Homo sapiens: one gene and its partners. The protein of the gene in region 4 interacts with the protein of the main gene of each other region in a pairwise test. Each region holds a gene or a part of one and is shown on either strand. Other genes may lie near its edges. The genes, in order: ITM2C, SUSD3, CLEC7A, OLFM4, QPCTL, CLSTN3 and SLC18A1.

Region 1 (2,403 bases), on a different chromosome or scaffold from region 4:
CCTCGCCCGAAATGCCAGCCCACCTCCCTCCTCCAGAGGCCCCTGGGCTGGCCCTTCTGATGTCCTCAGGCACTTCCTGCCTGTGCCCGGTGCCTGCACCTGTGCTGCCAGGAGCAATGGCATGCGCACGAGTCCGTACCCAGGGTACAACCTTGAACACTAAGGAAGCCGGTCTCGGGGCATTGACTCTGGAGATGTGGAAGCAGGGGGATAGCAGAGGCGAGACCAATCTGGGTACAGGGCCCAGGTGCCAGCAATGTCTCTTGCTCCCCCAACCCCTGACACAGGAACTTCCTGTACCTCAGACCTAGCCTCCATGAGACAGGGGGCAAGGGAGGGACAGGATGCTGCAGACATCCCCCCAACCCCCTGCGCACCTTCACGTTCATGAGGAGCTCCCAGAAGTTGCGAGGGGGCAGCACAATGGTGGTGTTGAGTTCGATGACATAGCACTTGTCCAGGGAGATATCATGGTACGCAGTCAGACCCTGGCAGGAGAAGGGGTTGGGTCAGTCTCTGCAGGAGGTGACAGCTGACCCAGGCAGGGCTGCAAGAAGCTTTGGCCAGCCAGGCGCGGTGGCTCATGCCTGTAATCCCAGCACTTTGGGAGGCTGAGGCGGGCGGATCAAAGGTCAGGAGATCGAGACCATCCTGACTAACATGGTGAAACCCCGTCTCTACTAAAAATACAAAAAATTTGCCAGGCGTGGTGGTGGGCACCTGTAGTCCCAGCTACTCGGGGGGCTGAGGCGGGAGAATGGTGTGAACCCAGGAGGCGGAGCTTGCAGTGAGCCGAGATCGTGCCACTGCACTCCAGCCTGGGCGACAGAGCGAGACTCTGTCTCCAAAAAAAAAAGCAGCTTGGCCAGCAGGGGCAGGAGTCCCACCATGCCTTCCTGGGACCCTGGGCCTTCAGGAGCAGAGTCCTCTCCAGACTCCTCAATACCTGGGCGGGCACTCCCTTTTCCTGGTCTTCTCTTAGCCTGTTGTAGAAGGTGCCACATGATAGAGGAAAATAGCAGCTGATTGCTAAACGCCTCTGTTGTTATAAAGCTTCTTCTCATGTTTACAGAGCTGAGGTTTGGGGAACATGGTAACATCCCAGCTGTGCATTTATGAAACCTGTGAGGGCCAGCCATTCCTGGGACAGCCTGGACCCCAGCGAGAGATGCCCTGTCTCAGGACCCATGGGGGTTACATGAATACGCATGAGACCCACTCTGCAGAGACCCGCTGAGCTGTACACGCAATGCACTCGATGGTGAATGTACTACCCCTCGATACAACGCACTGGCCCTGCCATGACAGCCAGCGTGCAGCTGGCAGGAGGCTGAGGAGAAAATCAGCCTCGGCTGCTTCATACTCAGCAAGAACCATTGTTGCTAACAGGAGAAAAGCAGTGTCTTGAAGACCCTGGTAAGCCTAACCGTAGACACCTGCTGTACTCCGAGGAGTCTCCTTTCATCCCTGCTCCCCTTGCCCTGAGTCCCCGGGACACCCTCCCACCCCCCACCCCCAGGCCCTGGCCAGCCTCACCCGCTGGAAGTCATGGATGATGTCTGCAGGGTCACCGCCGCCAAACTGGGGCACAGGCACGTTGATGCGCTCGTAGTTCTCGTCGAGGTAGATTTTCACATCCTCTTCCAGCTCCATCTGAGTCCGGACCTGGGAGGACAGGGAGTCCTCATACAGCACACCACAGCGGAAGAAGTTATCTCGGGCCAGCTGAGCAAGGCGGAGAGACAGACAGACAGTCAGAGAGGCTGGTCATACACGCACTCCGTAAGGCCCCCTCTTGCCTACCCGTCCGCTACATGCCCCAAAAGCCTGCGGAAGCAAGAAGAGCAGGGACTGTGAGACCCATTTCGCAGATGGAGAAACTGAGACGGTGGGGCATCAGGTCAGGGTCTGGGGCTGCCAGTGAGGAGATGAGCTGATTCTTGGGCAAGGCGCTTCCCAGCTTCACAAACGGAAGGGAGGATGAGCTGGGTCTGCCAGGTTCTAGGTGGCAGACCTCTCTGGGCCTCAGTTTCCCCATCAGTAAAGCATGATGATCCCTAAGGTCCCTTCTGGCCTCCAAGTCCTTGAGTCGGTGACTGGGAAAAGGGGTGGCCCAGCAGGACTAGGACCTGGCCACCTCCGTGCCCTCCACAGAGGTGCAGACACCAGAGAAAGAGCCTGGGGTTGGCAGGGGGTCAAGGACGAACCTAAGAGTTGGGCACCTACGCCTGTGCACGACTGCCTTTCCTGTCACCTGCTGTCCTGGCCTGCAGACCTGGAGGGGCCTAACACGGCGGGTGGGGAGGTGGAGCTGGAGGCAACACTGTTAAGAGTCTTGTGCCCCTATCACGGTTACCTCCACATCCAGCCTCGGACAAGTGCCATCGCCCTTCCTGGATATCC
Region 2 (2,933 bases), on a different chromosome or scaffold from region 4:
AAAAAAGGGAAGTCTCCTCTGCTGACTCTAACATCAACCAACCACTGTTACCTTTGTATTTTTCAGTATTAGAAATAATTATTTAGCTGGGCACGGTGGCTCACGCCTGTAATCCCTGCACTTTGGGAGGCCGAAGCAGGTGGATCACAAGGTCAGGAGATCGAGACATCCTGGCTAACACGGTGAAACCCCATCTCTACTAAAAATACAAAAAATTAGGTGGGCGTGGTGGTGGGCACCTGTAGTCCCAGCTACTCAGGAGGCTGAGGCAGGAGAATCGCTTGAACCTGGAAGCGGAGCTTGCAGTGAGCAGAGATTGCACCACTGCACTCCAACCTGGGCGACAGAGTGAGACTCTGTCTCAAAAAAAAAAGAAATAATTATTTAGTTTTACTTCATACCCCTCAACTGCACTTTTACAGACAACAGATGCAGAACCCTCCATGGGTCCTTGCTTGGAAGCAGTACATCCTGTGGAGGAAGATGCTGAGGTAGTTTTCTGTAGTTGCTGAAAAGAAGTTTATTGCTATTTTCTTATTTTATTATACAAAACTAGATTTGCTTAAAACATTTCCCAGTCTCTTTAAAGGAATGCTAGTTAGTGGGAGGCCACAGCTAGTAAATTACCCTCAGTAGTGGTTTCAAGTAGTCCATAACTATAAAAATCGTTACGGCCAGGATATGCCGGAACAGAACACTCCCCACTGGGGTCCTCAGCCTTGGATGTCAGCTCGGCCCCTCAAGGGGTCCCTACACCTGGAAGCTGATTCCACTCATCAGTCTCGAGCTGGGCGCATGTGGAGTTGATGTGGAGTTGTAGCTGACTGGCTGGTGGGGTCAGCCTGGCCTCCCAGTGTGGAGCATGGGCACCAGCCTCACTGCGTGGTCACCCTAGGGCATATGCTGCGGGCTGTTGTGGCATTCCTGTGGCCAGCCCAGAGGCAGGCAGGGGCTGTCTGGGGTTTGCCATGTGCACCATCACCTGGGCTTGGGGTGAGCTGGAGGAGCCACTGAGGCTTAGAGCTCTGGGGATCCCAGGGTCCTTGTCCACGCTGCGGGTCACACTGGCCAGCTTGCTGGTGCTCTCACCATGGTCTCTGTGGAGAGAGGAGGCATGAGTTGGCAAAAGAGTGTGGATAGGGTTTAATCCCCAACTCCATACCTTCCCAGGTACCCAGGCCCTCCAGTGGGCCTGGGGCAACTGCTGCCCTGAGCACTGGGGAGCCCGTTTCCTCCTGCTGGGAGCTGCCCTGCACCCTAAGGTGCACAGAGGTCACTCCATCTCCCTGCCGGGCCCTGTTGGCAAGTGGGTCCTTCATCTACACAACCAGGGCGTGGCCCAGGAGTCAGACACTTGCCCCCCTAAGGTGTGGGAAGGGACTTCCTGGGGCTCATTCAGAGTGTGCAGAAACCACCAGGAACCCAGCTGTCTGGCCAGGGCCTGGGATGTCCCAGGCAGAGAAGGGATGCTGGGGAGCAGGAGGTCAAGGGGAGGACATCTTCCCTCCTGCCAGGCCTGCCTCTTTGGTAGCCAGGAGCTGGATCACCCACCTGCTCCACCCTCAGTACTCTTGTGGCTCTCTACTCCCCCAGATACAAACCAAGCCATTCCCCAGGCTGACCAGACCCTGGCCCTGTCCCATCTCCAGCCTCCACACACACACTGGCCTCTGCTCCATGTGGGCTGCCTGGCGGCTCCCACCTCCAGCCCTTTGCATGTCCTCTCCTCCCCTCAGAGGCTGTCTCTCTCCCCTCCCAAAGCAGGCTCTCTTAGTCCTTTCACTTCCGGCATCACCTCTTCCAGGAAGCCTTCCTGGATCACGGCTCCCACCCACAACTAATTCTCAGAAAAACTCTAGTAAGTAGTAGGAATTAAGAAATGATCTGCTTATGCAATGAGTAAGTGAAAGCATCAATAACTGGTGGAGACGAAAGGCAGCTTCGGGGAGGCAGGAGCCAGACTGACTCCACCCAGCCTCACTTACTGGTTGTGTGGGAGTCTACACAAGTTTCTTAACCTGCCTAGTTCTTCACCTGGAAAACGGGATAAAAGTAGTACCCACCCCTAGGTGAAAAGAGTTAATATTTGGAAGAGTTCAGAACAGTGCCTGGCACATTGCAAGTGCTGAGAAGTACTTATGAAATAAAAACAAGGTCAAGAGGCAAACCTCACCTTGCTAAAGGCAATTTACCACCTATGGAGGCAGCCTGGGCCCTGCCTGAGGGGTGGGCAGCCCCAGCACAGGCATATCCCGAGGATCCTGCCTGGGAGCCCGGGGCCCAGGGCTGGGGACTCAGGGAACTCTGCCTCCATCGGCTTTGTAGCCCTGGGCAGGACCCGCCTTCTCTGAGTCCCCATGAAGCTGGGCTGAGTGCTCGAGGTCTCCATGTGTGAGAGAGCTCCGGGAAGGGGCTCTGCCCTAAGGGTCCCCCTCCCAATCCCCCTCAGCCTCACCACCACTTCCTGCCTCTTGAGCTGACTGTCAGAGTGGCCCCTAAGCCGGCCTCCTCCAGCCTCTCACGGCCCTGTCAGGGTGCCTCCCTCCCGCCCTGGCTCTCTCACTCCCCAGAGGGGGTGAACACAGCCCTGTACACAGATCTGTGGCCACTCTTGGACGGGACGCACACGTCCGACCACACACTGCACAAGTTCCCGCAGTGTAAGAGGCAGGGTCTGTGGCGCTGGGACCAGGCAGAAGTGTGGCCCCAAACAGCACCCCTGGGAGCCCCTCGGCATCATGCTCTGGCCAGCAAAGCCCCTGCGGCAGCGGCAGCAGCTGTGGCTGCCATCATCCTGGACACCATGTTGCCTTGAGAGGCAATTGTTCCTTCCCCCATTCCATGGGCACTTTCCCAGTTATGACACAGGATGATCTGGTCCCAGTGCTGTAATGGGGAGTGGGGATCACAGGTGGGGCAATGGAGGAGCTCTG
Region 3 (3,500 bases), on a different chromosome or scaffold from region 4:
GCAGTGAGCCGAGATTGCGCCACTGCAGTCCGCAGTCCGGCCTGGGCGACAGAGCGAGACTCCGTCTCAAAAAAAAAAAAAAGAATGCATGCCTAACCTGACATCAACCTAGAGAGAAGTGCCAATTTTTGAATGTCATTGAATGTCTCAAAAGGCCTATCTTATTTATTTAAAGTAATTATCATTTAATTTTCCAAAAGAATAGATTTGTAATGTGAGGACTGTACTGCCTCCATTCAACCTATCTGACAAAATCCCAGATGACAGTCCCCCTAGGCAGTTTTCATGGATGATTAGCCATTGTCTTCTCCTCCAATTGAAGAAATAAATTGACGCTACTTTCGTTAAGAAGTACTTCTCAGAGTTAGGTAACAACTTAAAAATAATTTAGTCCAACTGTATATTTTATGAATATGTAATCTGAGGTTCAGTGAAGATATCTGAATTGTTTACAAATCTATAACAATTTATTTTCAATTATAGGCTGGCCTAAAAGTCAGATAGACTTGTAATCCAGTACTCTTTCTTTGCCATATATCTAGTTCCATTAACTTTAATATAAATTATTACTACTGGGTAAGACATTACAGAAACAAAAACAAAATAAGAATAGTGAAAGTAGGTGTAGAAGTTATAGACTGGTTTAGATTTATAACATAGAATTTTTCCTATTAACCCCTTATCTTACCTCATTGAAGCTCTACCCTTCATTCATGATGTGTTATAAGTGCCACTTTTTCTGAAAACTTCTTAGGAACACGGGGATCTCTTTAAACTCCTATAGAATTTATTGCTAATGCCAGATATTTAACTTTTAATAGCTGCTGAGTTGCTTTTTTTTTACTTAAAAGATTATATGTGTCCTGTGATAGCAGGGTTATGTTTTAACCCTCTTTGCCTTTCCCAGTATCTTGCAAAGAGTAAATAATTTCTAAACATATATTATCATTGTTGCCATTTTTCTTGATAATTATGATGACAAGGAGAAGAATTTTCTACTTTACTTCCACCATATTTAAAAATTGAAATACAAACTCACAAAAATGGGTAGTGTCCTGATTATTGTAGTCATGCATACATGGAGTATGTTTGAAAGGATTTGTTTTAAGGCGAAACACAGTTTTTTAAATTAGTTAAAAATAAAAGCATATACTATGCACTTTATGTGCTTAAGGCATGCTATGATTATAATTATAGAGATATTAAAAATGAATTTTGGCCAAGTATGGTGGCTTACACCTGTAATCCCAACACTGGGAGATCGAGGTAGGCAGATCGCTTGTGCCCAGGATTTTGAGACCAGCCCAGATGATATGGAGAAACCTCGTCTCTATGAAAAATACAAAAAAACATTAGACGAGTGTGGTGGTGCACCCTGTAGTCCTACCTACTCAGGAAGCTGAGGTGGGAGGATCACTTGAGCCTGGGATGTCGCGGCTTCACTGCACTCTAGCTTGGGCAACAGAGTGAGACTCTGCCTCAAAAAAAAAAAAAAAAAAAGACTTCATTTTAGGAAAAATTGTCATTACCTGGAATCTCCCTCTATCTTCCTTCAGGATACACACCACAGATAATCATAACAGAAGTCTACACTTACCAATTCATTTGAGCTGTCTATCTTTAGGAGATTAGAGCCCAGTTGCCAGCATTGTCTTTTACTTCCATCCCAGGAATTTAGTGACATGCTGAATAGATAACAGCTCTTCTCATATATAATCCAATTAGGAGGACAAGGGCTGGAAAGAACCCCTGGAAATAAAAGATTAGTACCATGAGGTTCATAGCATACCAATTCACTCTTTTAGTGTGAACACCATTCATCTTAAGGACACTTATGAAATAACCAATTAGTTGCCATTTTTATATTTCATTGTCAATTCGAACTACAGGGATATGATTTTACAGATGAGAATACATTAAAATCTTCCTATTCATTTAAAATTTAAAAACAAACTAGCTATAAATAGTATTTTAGGCAGCCAACCATCCTTTTTTTCTTCACTTGTCTTCTATTCCTTCTAATTCAGCTCAAAACTACCTTTCTCCTTAATAACTCCTTAAAATAAGTCCACTCACAATCAGTCATTGAGGTACACAGCAATTTCATATTGCTACTTATTTTATGATGTAAGATCTACTTCATAATGTGACTTTCCAAGTGAGAAAAGTATAGGCCAATTATTCATATTATACACTATCTCTGTTATATATTATTAGCTACTTAATAAAAATAGTGAGAAGGTATGGGTCCAGAGATGAAAAATTGAACTGAAAACATTAAGTCATAGTCAATTATGATGCAATTAGAAGTAAAAGTCAAGTGTGTATAGAATTGTAATTAAGTAAATGAAATTGTATGATTAAACAAATTTGATGAGTTTTCAGGGACATGTGTATTAGGTCTACCTCTTTTGTATATTTTTAATATAGCTTCCTTATTCTTGGCAACATTTTCCCTTCTTTCCTTTCTCCCTGTCATTCTTCCTTTCTAATGTCATATTTCCTATTCTAACTGTATCGCATTTAAAATGTCAATTCTGTAAGGGGAGAGAACACTTTTCTTTTATTTGTATCAAATTATATGATCTCCTGTAGATCTAAGCACATAGCCAGTGATAAATCAGTTACTGATTTTAAAAATTAATAAAGTCCAATTTAGAACTGTCCAGCCAACTGCATAGGGTACTTATAATTTCACCTTATTGTATATATGACAGGGATACATTACACTAAGGTAATACTAATATGTGTATTTGCCTTAAATTTACAATCATTGAATCTAAGTGTTTTTCTTTACACCCCTGCCCCAGGCTTCAGCACCAAGAATTAACCCTCTTGAGTCAAGATTCCGTCCTTTAACTATGCCCTTGCCTGTGGTTTTGACAGCTTTGGTAGGAGTCACACTGTCTTCTAAAGATGATTGTGTGGGTTGACTGTGGTTCTCTTTATTTCTTGATAGAAAGTAGCCATTCTCCAATGTGTTGCTTCCTGAATTGGATCTCCAAATAGCTTCACATACCAACAATAATAATAGTGACAGAAAAAATGTCATTCTGCTGTGTTTGAAAATTAAAATCCCAAAACCCAAATGTTATTGGAATAAAAGAATACATTATTGATTAATGATAAATAGATGATATATTGCTGTGGAGAGATAAAGACGATTGATAGAATAGATGAAAAGAAATACATAACTTTTATAAAGGAGGTATAGTAAAAAAAAAAAAAGAAAAGAAAAAAGAAGGTGGAGAAGAAGAAATAGAATGAGGGAGGCAGCAAGAGGCAAATGTCATAGAGTCAATTGGACCCATGACAGATTTGAAATAGCAACATCTTTCACCTTTCTTCTGTTATTTAAAAATGAGAGATCCTTGAGAAACTGCCCAGTACCTATAACATAGAACGCACTCAATAAACATTTGACTAATTAAGGAATGTCATGAAGACTCTCTGAAGGTGACTGACAACAGATTGCATGTGATATAAAATGTAAAAAAAAT
Region 4 (3,500 bases):
TAATCTTATTTTTTTTTGGTGTATAGTAGGTGTATGTATTAATGGGGTACATGAGATACCCTGAGACAGGCATGCAATGCGTAATAATCACATCATGGAAAATGGAGTGTCCATCCCCTCAAGCATTTATCTTTTGTGTTACAAACCATCCAATTAGACTCTTTTACTTATTTTAAAATGTACAATGAAATTATTATGGACTATAGTCACCCTGTTGTGCTGTTGAATACTAGGTCTTATTTATTCTTTCTAACTACTTTTATTTTTTACCCTTTAACTATCCCCACTTCCATCCTCACCCTCCATCTCTTTCTTGATGGTTATCTTCTATTGTCTCAGCAGGAACATTACATTTGATGTGTCCAATATTAGACAAAAATTGAAGGCTTCCCTGGGAATTTGAATCAAGACTAATAGGTTTCTCAGCCTTGGTAAAAACACTGACTTGAACTCTGATTACTGTTTTTTTCTTTAGCCAGAGGAAGTTATCTTAAAGGGTTTGCCTTTCTCTGGGCTGGCTGGAGCAATGTGACTTGGTGTTCTAGTTTTGACTCCTTCCACCTTTTCAGCCCAAGTTAAAAATCAATTAGAAAAGTTCCTATTTTCTGCACAGGTGAAGTCCAAGCTAGTCTATAATCACATTATGCATTATTTAATACAACTCCATTAATTTACAAGGAGCTCTGGCTTTACTGCAAGATTCAGAATAAGTTTTCCTAAGAAATTTGAGCTTTGCCACCTCAACATCCAACATAGTTATCCTTTAAAACAAAAATTATGATGAGGCTGAGACCCTACTTTCAGCCTGAATTGGTAGATAAATATTCTAAGTTTAAATGAGTGTCCAGGAAAATGTGTTTGACTACTCTAGAAACCTAGCTGCTTAAGAAATATAATGTCCTTGAATTAATCAGTGGAAAAGGCACAGCATTAAATTATAAATTCTAACCATTAATATTCATAGCCTTATTCCAGCATAATCAAGTACAGATAAGAAGTTATGCATAAAAACATAACAAGTAGAGGAAAATCCTAGGTAAAGATCTTTTCAGTTAGAGTCATTTGCTTTGAAATAGTGGAAACTACTGATTTACATGTTGTCTTTGCTGGCAGCAGTGTGAAAGGCAGTTTGAAACCTTATGTGCTCCAGGGAGAGTATGTGGCTTGCCAGGTTTGTGAATATGGGACATTTAATTCCAATACTGTACGGGGGGCTGGTAACATCTGCTTTGCTAATGACAGATAGGGAAGAAGTGCAGAATAGGTGGGAAAGTTTTAGTTCTGAATGTGTCGGTGGCTGCTCTGATCCCAAAAAAACTGTGATTGTGGCCTAAGAAAAAAGTTTATCTGCTAGCTAGGATTTATATAATCGATTTAGTGTGACAGGTGATAATAACAACAATAATAGTAGCAGTTTGTTTGTGCTTTTTCAAATGCTTCCAGTTCTATTCTCTCCTCTCAAGTAACCCTTTAAGGCAGATAGGCCAGGTGTTGTCTCTCCCATTTTAGAGACAGTAAAACTGCAGTTCATAAAGGTAAGGAGACTTGCCCAAGGTCATTCCTCTCTTGGCTGGTTAAGCCAGGTCAGAATTCGAGTCTTCAAAATCATCTCAACTCTCTTTCCTCTTGGCCATGCTGTTAGCATCCTCCAAGGTAGGCCCAGGAAGAGATGCAGTAGTAATGCCTTCAAATCCAAAGTTATCCCTTTAGCTGAGGGCTTTCGAATTTCCAAGTGAGTTATTACAGCTGTCCCTAGGTTGCCTTGAAAATTGTCATTTATCCGGGGGCCTGGGAGAATGCCCGTTTAGGACAGGCCAGTAGAAAAGGTTTTTGACTGCCTTACATTGATTCATTGTCTGTCAGTACACAGAGAAGACAGGGAGCTGCCTCTGCATAAGATGCTGAAAGCATTTTATACTTTTCTGTTGTTTACGGTATGTCCTTTTGTGACTATACTTAGGAAAGGGATGGCACAAAAGGCAGCTCAGGATTTTCTCTTTCTCTGGAGGCTTATGGTCTTTGGCATGAGTTATTTAATATGACACATTTGCTAGTAGATCCTCATGCACGGGAAGGTTGAGGCAGCCTAGGAGACATTAAGGCAACCCATAAAGAAATAACATTGATTGAGCCGTATTTGTATAGTGAAATATAATAAATTAAAAGGTCAGATTGGAAAATGCTGAAATTACTGTTTCTCTATTAATTTCTATAATTCATAGGGCCTCCATTAACTAGGCACTTAACGTACATTATCTCTAGTCTTTATGATAATCTTGTAAGCTCAGTATCATTACCCCCAGTTTACAGGAAACTAAGGGTTAAAGAAATTAAGTGATTTGCCCACTAAGTACTGAAGTTAGATTTGAGTCTAGTTGGGTCTAGCTCCAAAGTACTTTATATGTCTTTACAATCACTCCAGGCTCAATGAACCCTGTTACGTTTACTTTGAAACATATATTGAAAATAGTAGTATGTTGCAAAGTAAACGTACTTATTTCAAATAGTCTGGCCATAGTTATAATCACAGGTTTTGAGAGACTGGCAGAAACATGAACCAGATTAATTCTTTAGCTTGCTAGCACTACACCCTTATTTATTACAAGACCACATTAATTATAAGGAACAATAACAGGCACCCTCAAATCAACGCTCACACAAATTTTATTCCTCATCAATGATATAGTATGTGCATAACAAGCAAAATAAAATGGAAGCTGTGAATGTTAGGCTGGTGGCTTAAAGGCTCAACTAAAACATAGATGAGCCATCTAGTGCTCAGACTTGTCATGATGAGGAGCTTCGAGATAAAGATGTTGACACAGGACGTGTCTCCTCAAGGCTAGACCCATATTCTTGATAGAATGTTTAGCAGCGTCCCTGGTCTTTAGATGCCAATAGCACTCGCCCACCCCCCAGTTATGAGAACCAGGACAAAATCACCACCACTACCGCCCTCCCTCCATTTAGAACCACTTTTCTAGATCAAAATACAGCCATAGGTCAGCTAAAGACAGGGACATGTTCTGATAAATGCATCGTTAGGTGATTTTAACATTGGTGAACGTCATTGTATACTTACACAAACCTAGAGGGTGTAGCCAACTACACACTCAGGCTATATGATATAGCCTATTGCCAGGCTACAAACCTGTACAGCCTGTGACTGTACTGAATAATGTAGGCAATTATAATACAATGGTAAGTTTTTGTGTGTGCATATATATCTAAACATAGAAAAGGTACAGTAAAAATATGATATTTATAATCTCATGGGACCACTGTCATATATGCAGTCTGTCATAGACAAAAATGTTATGCAGCAAATGACTGTATTTTCCAGAAGAAGAAAAAAATGCAGAAAGTGCCCCAAGTGCCAGATGTGGGACTGGAGGCTCCCAGGCAGGCTGGGCTGCCTCTCCCAAGACTGCACCTCCCAGGAGGAGCTGACATGTGGTCAGCATTGTCCACGCATTCCCAAAGCTACAGATTCATATATG
Region 5 (3,500 bases), on a different chromosome or scaffold from region 4:
TGCTGGAGCTGGCCCAAGCACTTGACCTGGAGCTGAGCAGGGCCAAAAAACAGGTGAGGAGCAGGAGTCGGGGAGGGTAGTGGGCTACCTCCACCTTTTCCCAAGCCCCCACCCTCCCTTGCCTGGACATTTGTCATCCCTCTCGTCTTCCCACTCTACTCCACGCACAGAGCCACAGGGATCTTTTTTTTTTTTTTGAGACGGAGTTTCGCTCTTGTTCCCCAGGATGGAGTGCACATGGCGAGATCTTGGCTCCCCGCAACCTCTGCCTACTGGGTTCAAGCAATTCTCCTCCCAACCTCAGGTGATCTGCCCACCTCGGCCTCTCAAAGTGCTGGGATTACAGGCGTGAGCCACCGCGCCTGGTCATCACAGGGATCTTTTTACCTTCTAGATGTCAGATTCTCTTTCCTCTCCCCCAAACCCTCCCAGGGCTCCCGCCTCATTCCAGCCATAATCCAGAGTCCTTATATTGGCCCACGAGCTGTGCCCTGTTACCTCTCCAGCCTCATCTCCCACCCCTCACCTCTTGCTCACTCTGCTGTAGCCACCCCCACCTCCTCTGGGTTCCTCAAACCCGCAGAGCTTGCTCCCACCTCAGGGCATCTGCACTTGCTGTTTGCTTTGGATAGAATGTGCTTTTCTGGCCAGGCTCCGTGGCTCACACTTGGAATCCCAGCACTTTGGGAGGTTGAGGTGGGTGGATCACAAGGTCAGGAGTTCAAGACCAGCCTGGCCAACATGATGAAACCCCATCTCTACCAAAAACACAAAAATTAGCCAGGCTTGGTGGTGCACACCTGTAACCCCAGCTACTCGGGAGGCTGAAGCAGAGAATTGCTTGAACCCGGGAGGCGGAGGTTGCAGTGAGCCAAAGTTGCACCACTGCACTCCAGCCTGGGCAACAGAGCGAGACTCCATCTCAAAAAAAAAAAAAAATTATCTGGGAGTAGTGGCATGCTACTTGGGAGGCTGAGAGGGGAGGATGGCTTGAGTCTAGGAGTTTGAGACTGCAGTGAGCCATGATCGTGCCACTGTATTCTAGCCTGGGTGACAGAGACCTTGTCTCTTAAAAAAAAAAAAAAGAATATGCTTTTCATAGATATCTTCCTGGCTGGCTCCCACTCTTCACTCAGGTGTCCACTCCAATGTCACCCCTTCAAAGAGGCCTTCCCGGCCGGGCGTGGTAACTCGCACCTGTAATCCCAGCACTTTGGGAGGCCGAGGCAGGCAGATCATTTGAGGTCAGAAGTTCGAGCCCAGCTTGTCCAACAGGGAAACCTCATCTCTACTAAAAATACAAAAATTAGCTGGGTATGGTGGTACATACCTGTAATCCTACTACTTGGGAGGTTGAGACAGGAGGATCACTTGAAACTGAGAGGCGGAGGTTGCAGTGAGCCGAGATCGCACCACTGCACTCCAGCCTGGATGACAGAGCGAGATTCTGTCTCAAAACAAACAGAAAAGAAAAACACAGGCCAGGTGCGGTGGCTCACACCTGTAATCCCAGCACTTTGGGAGGCCAAGGCAGGTGGATCGTGAGGTCAGGAGATTGAGACCATCCTGGCTAACACAGTGAAACCCCGTCTCTACTAAAAATACAAAAAGTTAGCTGGGCGTGGTGGCGGGCGCCTGTAGTCCCAGCTACTTGGGAGGCTGAGGCAGGAGAATGGCGTGAACTCGGGAGGCAGAGTTTGCAGTGAGCCGAGATCGCGCCACTGTACGCCAGCCTGGGCGATACAGCGAGACTCCGTCTCAAAAAAAAAAAAAAGAAAGAAAAAAAAGAAAAGAAAAGAAAAACACAGATTTAATCATGCTCCTGCCCTGCTTAACCCCTCTCTGTGCCTCCCCAGTGTCCCTATAACAAAGCCCACACTCCTTGGCCCTTGCTAAACCTTCCGTACCCCTCTCAAACCTCTGGGACCCCTTCCCTGGCCATAGCCTTGCCCTGTGTTGCTCCCTTGGCTGGGAATACTCTTCCTCCTGCTCCATTTTGCCAGGCCAGTTCCTACCCATTCTCATGGCAAACATCCCTTCCCAAAAGACCCAACGCCCTCTCCAGGCCAGGTCATCCCCCAGCCTCCTTCCTATGCCCTCTCAGGACTCTATAGTTCTTAGAAGCATTTGTCTCAACTGCATTTCACTGTTTGTATAATTATTCATTTGTGGATCTATCTGGTTCACCAAACTGAGCTTGAGGAATAATAATCAGAGATAACCCTTATTTAGTTATATGCCAGGCACTGTTCTAAGACCTGGATTCAAACCTTACCCTTTGAAAAGAACTGTTATTGCCGGGCGCGGTGGCTCACATCTGTAATCCCAGCACTTTGGGAGGCTGAGGTAGGTGGATCATTTGAGGTCAGGAGTTCGAGACCAGCCTGGCCAACATGGTGAAAGCTTGTCTCTACTAAAAATACAAAAATTAGCCAGGCATGATAGCGGGAACCTGTGGTCACAGCTGTATGGGAGGCTGAGGCAGGAGAATCTCTTGAACCTGGGAGGTAGGGGGTGGAGGTTGCAGTGAGTCAAGATTGCATCATTCCACTCCAGCCTGGGTGACAGAGCAAGATTTATTCTAAAAAAAACAAAAAACAAAAAAAAAACAAAAAACCTCTTATTAACCCCATTTATAGATGAAGAAACTGATCCTTCCAGAAGTTAGTAACTTCCCCATGCCTGCTTTGTTATGAAGCAGCCAAGTACGGATTTGATCCCAGACAACTGACTCGGAATCTGTGCTCTTGGCTACCACGTTCTATGAGTGAGGACACCTTATGTGTTCTCTTAAGCATGCAAGCGGGCAAGAAGTGTGGGTATGTTGAGGCTGAGGGCTAGTCCTGAGCTGGCTCTGGCCACCCCCCTGCTGCTCCCACAGGCAGCCCCGGTGACCCTGCAACTGCTCTTCTTGGATGGTGAAGAGGCGCTGAAGGAGTGGGGACCCAAGGACTCCCTTTACGGTTCCCGGCACCTGGCCCAGCTCATGGAGTCTATACCTCACAGCCCCGGCCCCACCAGGATCCAGGCTATTGTAAGACCAGGGTCCCCTGGCTTCTGGCGAGGGAGGGAGCAGGTTAAGCAGGGCTGGCGTCATCCTGCACGGGCCCCTCCAGTCCTAGCCTTTCTCCTTAGGAGCTCTTTATGCTTCTTGATCTCCTGGGAGCCCCCAATCCCACCTTCTACAGCCACTTCCCTCGCACGGTCCGCTGGTTCCATCGGCTGAGGAGCATTGGTAAGGGTGAATGCGGAGGTGGGCCCCAGCCCACCTGGGGTATGGGGTACAGGGCGGTGGGCTGGGGTAGGACAGGCACCTACACTCTAAAGGCTCATCCACCAGTCTGGGCCACATAGGGAGACCCCATCTTTTTTTTTTTTTTTTTTTTGAGATGGAGTCTCGCTCTGTCACTGAGACTGGAGTGCAGTGGCATGATCTTGGCTCACTGCAACCTCCACCTCCCAGGTTCAAGCCATTCTCCTGCCTCAGCCTCCCGAGTAGC
Region 6 (2,537 bases), on a different chromosome or scaffold from region 4:
CACCTCCCTTCTCCTGGTGGGCTTGGGGCTCCGGGACGTCTGGGGTTCCTGCTTCCCCAACATCTCCCCCTGAGGCATACCTGCCTCCCCCGTGGCTCTCCCATGCTTCTGGCCCTGCAGCCCCACTTTGATGCCCAGGCTCAGAGGGGCATGGACCTTCAAGGGCACTGAGACACAGAACGGTGCGTTCACTCTCACACGGACCTTAGAGCTGATGGCGGCAAAGCAGATGTGCATGCACAGGTACATGCTCAGGAAGACCGTGTGGGCACACAGCTGCACAAAGGTTGCCACGCCCCACACCCGAGCCAGGCCTTTGCCAGCCTGCATGCTGGCCCACACCAGCCACCTGGCCGCCTGCTCACACTGCGGGAGTAAAGGAACGCGTCTGGGGGTCTCCAGCAAGGCACGGTAGAGCCATATGTGCAGCATCACCCAGCTCCCCACCAGCTGGGCAGACCAGGCAACCCCCTGAAGGAAGACATAGACACTACAGACGTGGGCCGTGAGGGCCACAGAGCGAGCCGCCATGAGCACAGCCCTGCCTGCCTCCTGCACACACACACACAGCTCTCGAAGAAGCACAAGGAAGAAAAGCAGGAAAGCCCGCAGCCCCAGGGACAGCAGGTGGAGGCAGAGACCCCACACACGCACCTCCAGGCCCAGGGCCCTTACGGGCAGCTGGGTCACTACTCCCCACATGGGTGCACACCCCTGCCCACCATGCATACACAGCAGCTCCTCCCTGGGCGGTCCCGTTGCTGAGGGACTATTCCATGTATGTGTGCCCCAAACACACACAGAGACCAGCAGTCACACAAGCAAGCCCCTAGAAAAATACACACATCGCATTCCAGCCCCGTCCGCAAATTACCTACAGCCTGAGACTCATGTGTCAACAGACAGAGCAGAGCGTAGGGAAGCGCATGGCCCAGGAGCTCCTCACACTCACACCCACACCCTGCTGCAGCGCCCCTCTCCCCAGCAGCCAGCACACTCAGCTGCCACGCACTCCAGGGCCAACTAGGTGTGTGGAGAATGCCCTGCCTGGGCAGGCCACACACCTCCCTGAGGCCACCCTGATGGCTGTCTGCCAAGTTGGTCCCCATCCTGACCCACAGCCCACTTGAGGCCACCAGCCAATTAGAACGGACTCTGCTGGGGCACACTCCCTCGACACTGGTTCCAAGGTGAAGACAGGACTGGCTGGATCAGTATTTCTCAACTTCCTGGGAACGGGGGATAAGGGAGGAGGGGACAGAGCTGTCTCTCCTGCCCATCTGCAGGAAATAGTGTCTCTCAGGTCTCCACGTCAACAGACCAGAGCCAGGGGCAGTGCCTTCACTGGCAGATGGGCCCAGTGGCTAAGCCCAGGCTCCAGAAGGGGTGGTGACCCCACCCTCAGAGTGGAGGCCAAAGCAGGTGAACTTCCTCTAAGCACACAACGATGACGAGCTAAAGCTGGTTTGCGCCCTAATCAATGCAGTGTCCCTCCGAGCTCCTGGCCTAATGAAGGAAATGACAAGTTGATTGCCAGGACAATAAGAAATGACCACAGGAAAGACAAAATGCAGACACTCTATCTACAAGCAAACAAGTCTGGTTAATTAGTTTAAGATGAGTCAGGAGCCCGGGGAGATGGGAGGATTTTTAAATCAGCTACAGATAAAAATCAAGAATTTAAGAAGTGCGTTCAGCTTTTCTTGCTACATGAGATCTGAGCAGTTAATTCTGGCCTTGAATGACCTCCAGAGCCAACATTAAGGGGTGACTTAGCAAATGGTCCATGGGATTGCGAGGACAGTGGAAAGCCCTGTCCATGGCCCCACACGGTGCTCTCTTTGCAAAGAGCCTTGGGAGAGATTTCTTTCTGCCCCCCGCACTCCCAGGGCTTTTCATGAAATAGCGTTTGGCTCCTATCACGGCTCTCAGAACTGCTCAGGTTTCCTTTTGCTTTAGCTTTGAAGAAGCTCAGGGTCAAAATTCTGGCCCGTGGTAGCAACTGCATAGCATCTCATAGTACGCATGTTATGAGCTGACTTTATTCCCTGGCTTCATTGGATCCTTATTTCATCATTACCTGTTCCTCCTTACTTCCTCATTCATTTTCTTTTTGTCCTATTGCTTTGTAACTCTTTCTGCAAAGCTTCAGATACTTGTAGGAAACAAAAGAGGAAAATTATTCCCAAACTTTTAAAGATTACATGGGATTTTTAAAAACCACTGACACGTGGCTCCCACCCCCTAGACATTCTAGGGTATAATTTAGGTGCCGAGAGTTTTTAAAGCTCCCCAGGTGATTCTGGCAGTCATCAAAATTTGATATGAGTAGATACATAATACCCTCATCATCCGGCTTGCTCTTCTCAACCAACCTTATTCTCTCTAACCATAAACACTCTTAACCACCTATCTACCCCCGGTTCTCAAATTCCCATTCTCTCTCACACCCATCCAAAAATCCCTTTTACAGTTCAGGTCCAAATGCAAACTCTACATGTGCCACAAAATCTCCCCTGACTGTTCCAGTTTACCCT
Region 7 (3,500 bases), on a different chromosome or scaffold from region 4:
CACACACACACACACACACACACACACAATTATAATCTTAAATCTTAAACATCGTGGTACATCGTGTTTTCTTTATAAAAGAGAAAAAGAAGTTCAGAAGTGTTAAGTGACTTGCCCAAGGCCTCTCCACTAGCAGGTGCCAGAGTTGGGATTCAAACCCTGTCCAGGGGTCCCAGAGCTGAGGCTCCTCTGACCACCCTGCCCTTCCTCCTCCCATCCCCTCCTGTGGCCAGGTCTGTGTGAGAGCTGGACATGTCTGTGAAATGTCGTGGTAGCTCAGTGTGTGTTGGTTTGGGGGGTTACATGTCAATCTAAGTGAGTAGGAGAGTTAGCCAATGTGGAAACCATGAACAATGAGGACTAACTGTATAAGGTCAGAATTTAGCTACTTTAGCTAATAGGATAACTTGGGCAGGCACAGTCTTTTAGTAGGTTTTAACCATGCCACTCCAGATACCAGCCTTGGGCATAAGGCTGAACCTCATCATAGTCCCCTGATCCTAGTAGTGGTAAGATGACATCTGTCCTTAGCCCCCATCACCTGTCCTCCTTGACTTTCAGTAGAATTGACATCTGTCCTTAGCCCCTTGAGTTTCAGTGGTAAGATGACATCGGTCCTTAGCCCCCATCACCTGTCCTCTTTGACTTTCAGTGCCAATTGTGCCCACCTTCCTATATGACATGGAGTTCAAAGAAGTCAACTCTTCTCTGCACCTCGGCCATGCCGGAAGTTCCCCACATGCCCTCGCCTCTCCTGCCTTTTCCACCATCTTCTCCTTCTTCAACAACAACACCGTGGCTGTTGAAGAAAGCGTACCTAGTGGAATAGCATGGATGAATGACACTGCCAGCACCATCCCACCTCCAGCCACTGAAGCCATCTCAGCTCATAAAAACAACTGCTTGCAAGGCACAGGTTTCTTGGAGGAAGAGATTACCCGGGTCGGGGTTCTGTTTGCTTCAAAGGCTGTGATGCAACTTCTGGTCAACCCATTCGTGGGCCCTCTCACCAACAGGTATCTCACTGGGTGCAGTGCCCCGCAGGGTACACAGGAGTAGGAGGACTAGAAAAGTATAGAAAGGGGGTTGGAAGGGAAAAAGAAGAAATACTCACTTGTATGATTCCTCAGGGGAGTCAGCTATTCGGAAAGCTCGTTACTCAAAGAATAACATGTTACTGATGAAATGTTATGGGATCAGATTTTCTTAGTGATATATTGAGTATTGAGTACCAAGAAGAGAACCATGAACAGCAGTGTGCTGTGATGTTCTATCAGTGACCTGGAGCATGGCTTGAATGGGAAAAGGGTATGAATGGGACAGTCCTGTTGTAATCTAGAGCACTGGCTTCCCAGGAGTTGTATTGACGATTATTCTGATATTTTCAAGAGATATACACTCCACCTAGGCTATCATTTCTGGAAATGAGAATTTTGGCCCTGATCTATGGTCATATCTGCATGTTTGTTTGTTTGCTCATACTCATCCACATGCCCTATTTCATCTCCACACTACATTCAGAGGCATGTTTTACCATACACCCAAATAGCTGCATTTCTGCTCCCACTTACATTTAAAAATGTAGTCCATGTATGTGAGTGCCTGTTGGAATTGTATCTTTTTTTTTTTCAATTCCCTTTTAGGATTGGATATCATATCCCCATGTTTGCTGGCTTTGTTATCATGTTTCTCTCCACAGTTAGTAAGTAATTTGCTTCCTCTTTTCTTCCCTTCACTGATTACCTTTGATTTTATCAAGTGAATGCGGTGTAGATAGCAGGGTAACCTAGAATGTAATTAGGCATCTGACTAAGCAGACTGGAATATTGGTTTAAATGCTCTGCTGTTTTTGGTATGTGGACTAGAACAGTAGTGACAATTCAGTCTAGTTGGAATTGGTCTATTCTGCTATAGAAGAACAGATATTTTATTCACTTCACTTCAGCTGGACATAATGAGAGCTGTTTGAATATGTATGCTACGGGGTGTGTGTGTGTGTGTGTGTGTGTGTGTGTTATATGCATCAGTAATCCCTTGAGCAAGTTTAATACAAACTTTCCATCTATGAGAAGCAATGATATTATTTTGTTATGCCATGGAAAAGGGCAACTCACAAAAAAATGGAAATTGGACAATAACATCTGGAAAATTCCAAAAAGCCTACTGCTTTTCAGTTAAGGGCTTTAAAGGTTAAGCTTAGAAAAGTAAATTTGCTAAAGAAACAAGAAAGAGAAAGACAAATACTCTATCCAGGATCAGCTAAATGTTTCTAATAAAATGGAGATGGGATAAACACAGTACATGAGAAAAGTAAGTCTGGAAATTGATGCTGAGAAGTAAAGGAAGAAGGAATGAAAAGGGTTAGCGTTAGCAGGTTAAGGCAGGGGAAGGCAGCCTGTGGATCCAGCCTTGGTTCCCGATGGCCCTGCTGAACCTCTGCTCTCCAACAACACACCTCCTTCTCCCTCGCGTTTTTCTTTTCTTTTCTTTTCTTTTTAATTATACTTTAAGTTCTAGGGTACACGTGCACAACGTGCAGGTTTGTTACGTATGTATACATGTGCCATGTTGGAGTACTGCACCCATTAACTCATCATTTACATTAGGTATATCTCCTAATGCTATCCCTCCCCTCTCCCCCGACTCCATGACAGGCCCCGGTGTGTGAAGTTCCCCTTCCGGTGTCCATGTGTTCTCTGTTCAATTCCCACCTATGAGTGAGAACATGCCTCTCATTTTTCTTATTACCTTTCTGTTCCTTGTCTACTTTCTGTCTTCCTCTTCCTCAACTTTTCTTCTTTCCCAGCACAGAACTTGATTCCTAGCAACCCAATATTTAACAAGAATTTGTTGCATTCTGGGCTGGAAGGCTGCAAACTGCAAGAACTTGAGATGTGAGGTTGTCTCTGAGAACTACGTCTTGTTTGTGAAATTTTAGTGGACTTGAAGAAAATGAAGAAATTCAAATTAGCACTGTTCATGGAACTTCTAGCAGTTCAGCCTAAGTTAGACAGCAAATTTAAAAATAATAAGATGCCAGGTGCCCTATTTCATCAAATGAGGCTTAAGATTTATTCCAAACAACTTTATGCAGTGCATGTATAATGCCCAGATGGCCATAGTCACATAAAGAATGAAAAGACATGATTCCAGCTATCAGAAGTGTATATGATGGTTGCCTGGGGAGACATGAGACACACACTGAGAAGTAAGACAATGCGGTGTGCTAGTGGATCTGAGACGTTTTAGCATGATATCCTTGCCTGATTCTCTGCCAAGAATTCATGTGTTAAAAGCTTTACTTTTAAAGTAAACTGTATATGTTAAGTAATTATTGTTTAACTTATACCAAACTATATATGTTAAATAATTATTATTTCCATAGGATAGCTGTGTTGCTATATGGAGTTGGCCTAATTCTAACCAAAAGAAAATACATTTGATGTTTAGGGTATCCTTGTCCAATGTTCTAAAAAATACTTAAAAGAGATTGTTGATGC

The links.
Region 1: the proteins of OLFM4 (region 4) and ITM2C interact in binary tests that used the Homo sapiens proteins (3 or more experiments, as listed by UniProt).
Region 2: the proteins of OLFM4 (region 4) and SUSD3 interact in binary tests that used the Homo sapiens proteins (3 or more experiments, as listed by UniProt).
Region 3: the proteins of OLFM4 (region 4) and CLEC7A interact in binary tests that used the Homo sapiens proteins (3 or more experiments, as listed by UniProt).
Region 5: the proteins of OLFM4 (region 4) and QPCTL interact in binary tests that used the Homo sapiens proteins (3 or more experiments, as listed by UniProt).
Region 6: the proteins of OLFM4 (region 4) and CLSTN3 interact in binary tests that used the Homo sapiens proteins (3 or more experiments, as listed by UniProt).
Region 7: the proteins of OLFM4 (region 4) and SLC18A1 interact in binary tests that used the Homo sapiens proteins (3 or more experiments, as listed by UniProt).

What each region holds. Positions count from the first base shown.
Region 1 is NC_000002.12:230,874,942-230,877,344, reverse strand, and holds part of ITM2C (integral membrane protein 2C), read right to left. Parts: intron 1,726-2,403; coding exon 1,537-1,725; intron 489-1,536; coding exon 378-488; intron 1-377. UniProt on the Homo sapiens protein: Negative regulator of amyloid-beta peptide production. May inhibit the processing of APP by blocking its access to alpha- and beta-secretase.
Region 2 is NC_000009.12:93,082,701-93,085,633, reverse strand, and holds the end of SUSD3 (sushi domain-containing protein 3), read right to left. Parts: intron 1,098-2,933; coding exon 887-1,097; 3' UTR 501-886; downstream 1-500. UniProt on the Homo sapiens protein: May play a role in breast tumorigenesis by promoting estrogen-dependent cell proliferation, cell-cell interactions and migration.
Region 3 is NC_000012.12:10,123,700-10,127,199, forward strand, and holds part of CLEC7A (C-type lectin domain family 7 member A), read right to left. Parts: intron 3,010-3,500; coding exon 2,872-3,009; intron 1,750-2,871; coding exon 1,598-1,749; intron 1,475-1,597; coding exon of another isoform or gene 1,388-1,474; intron 1-1,387.
Region 4 is NC_000013.11:53,035,313-53,038,812, forward strand, and holds part of OLFM4 (olfactomedin-4 precursor), read left to right. Parts: intron 1-3,500. UniProt on the Homo sapiens protein: May promote proliferation of pancreatic cancer cells by favoring the transition from the S to G2/M phase. In myeloid leukemic cell lines, inhibits cell growth and induces cell differentiation and apoptosis.
Region 5 is NC_000019.10:45,695,666-45,699,165, forward strand, and holds part of QPCTL (glutaminyl-peptide cyclotransferase-like protein), read left to right. Parts: coding exon 1-53; intron 54-2,877; coding exon of another isoform or gene 2,878-2,881; coding exon 2,882-3,034; intron 3,035-3,116; coding exon of another isoform or gene 3,117-3,122; exon of another isoform or gene 3,123-3,135; coding exon 3,136-3,235; intron 3,236-3,500. UniProt on the Homo sapiens protein: Responsible for the biosynthesis of pyroglutamyl peptides.
Region 6 is NC_000012.12:7,154,371-7,156,907, reverse strand, and holds part of CLSTN3 (calsyntenin-3 precursor), read right to left. Parts: intron 1-2,537. UniProt on the Homo sapiens protein: Postsynaptic adhesion molecule that binds to presynaptic neurexins to mediate both excitatory and inhibitory synapse formation.
Region 7 is NC_000008.11:20,176,637-20,180,136, reverse strand, and holds part of SLC18A1 (chromaffin granule amine transporter), read left to right. Parts: intron 1-652; coding exon 653-1,016; intron 1,017-1,643; coding exon 1,644-1,702; intron 1,703-3,500.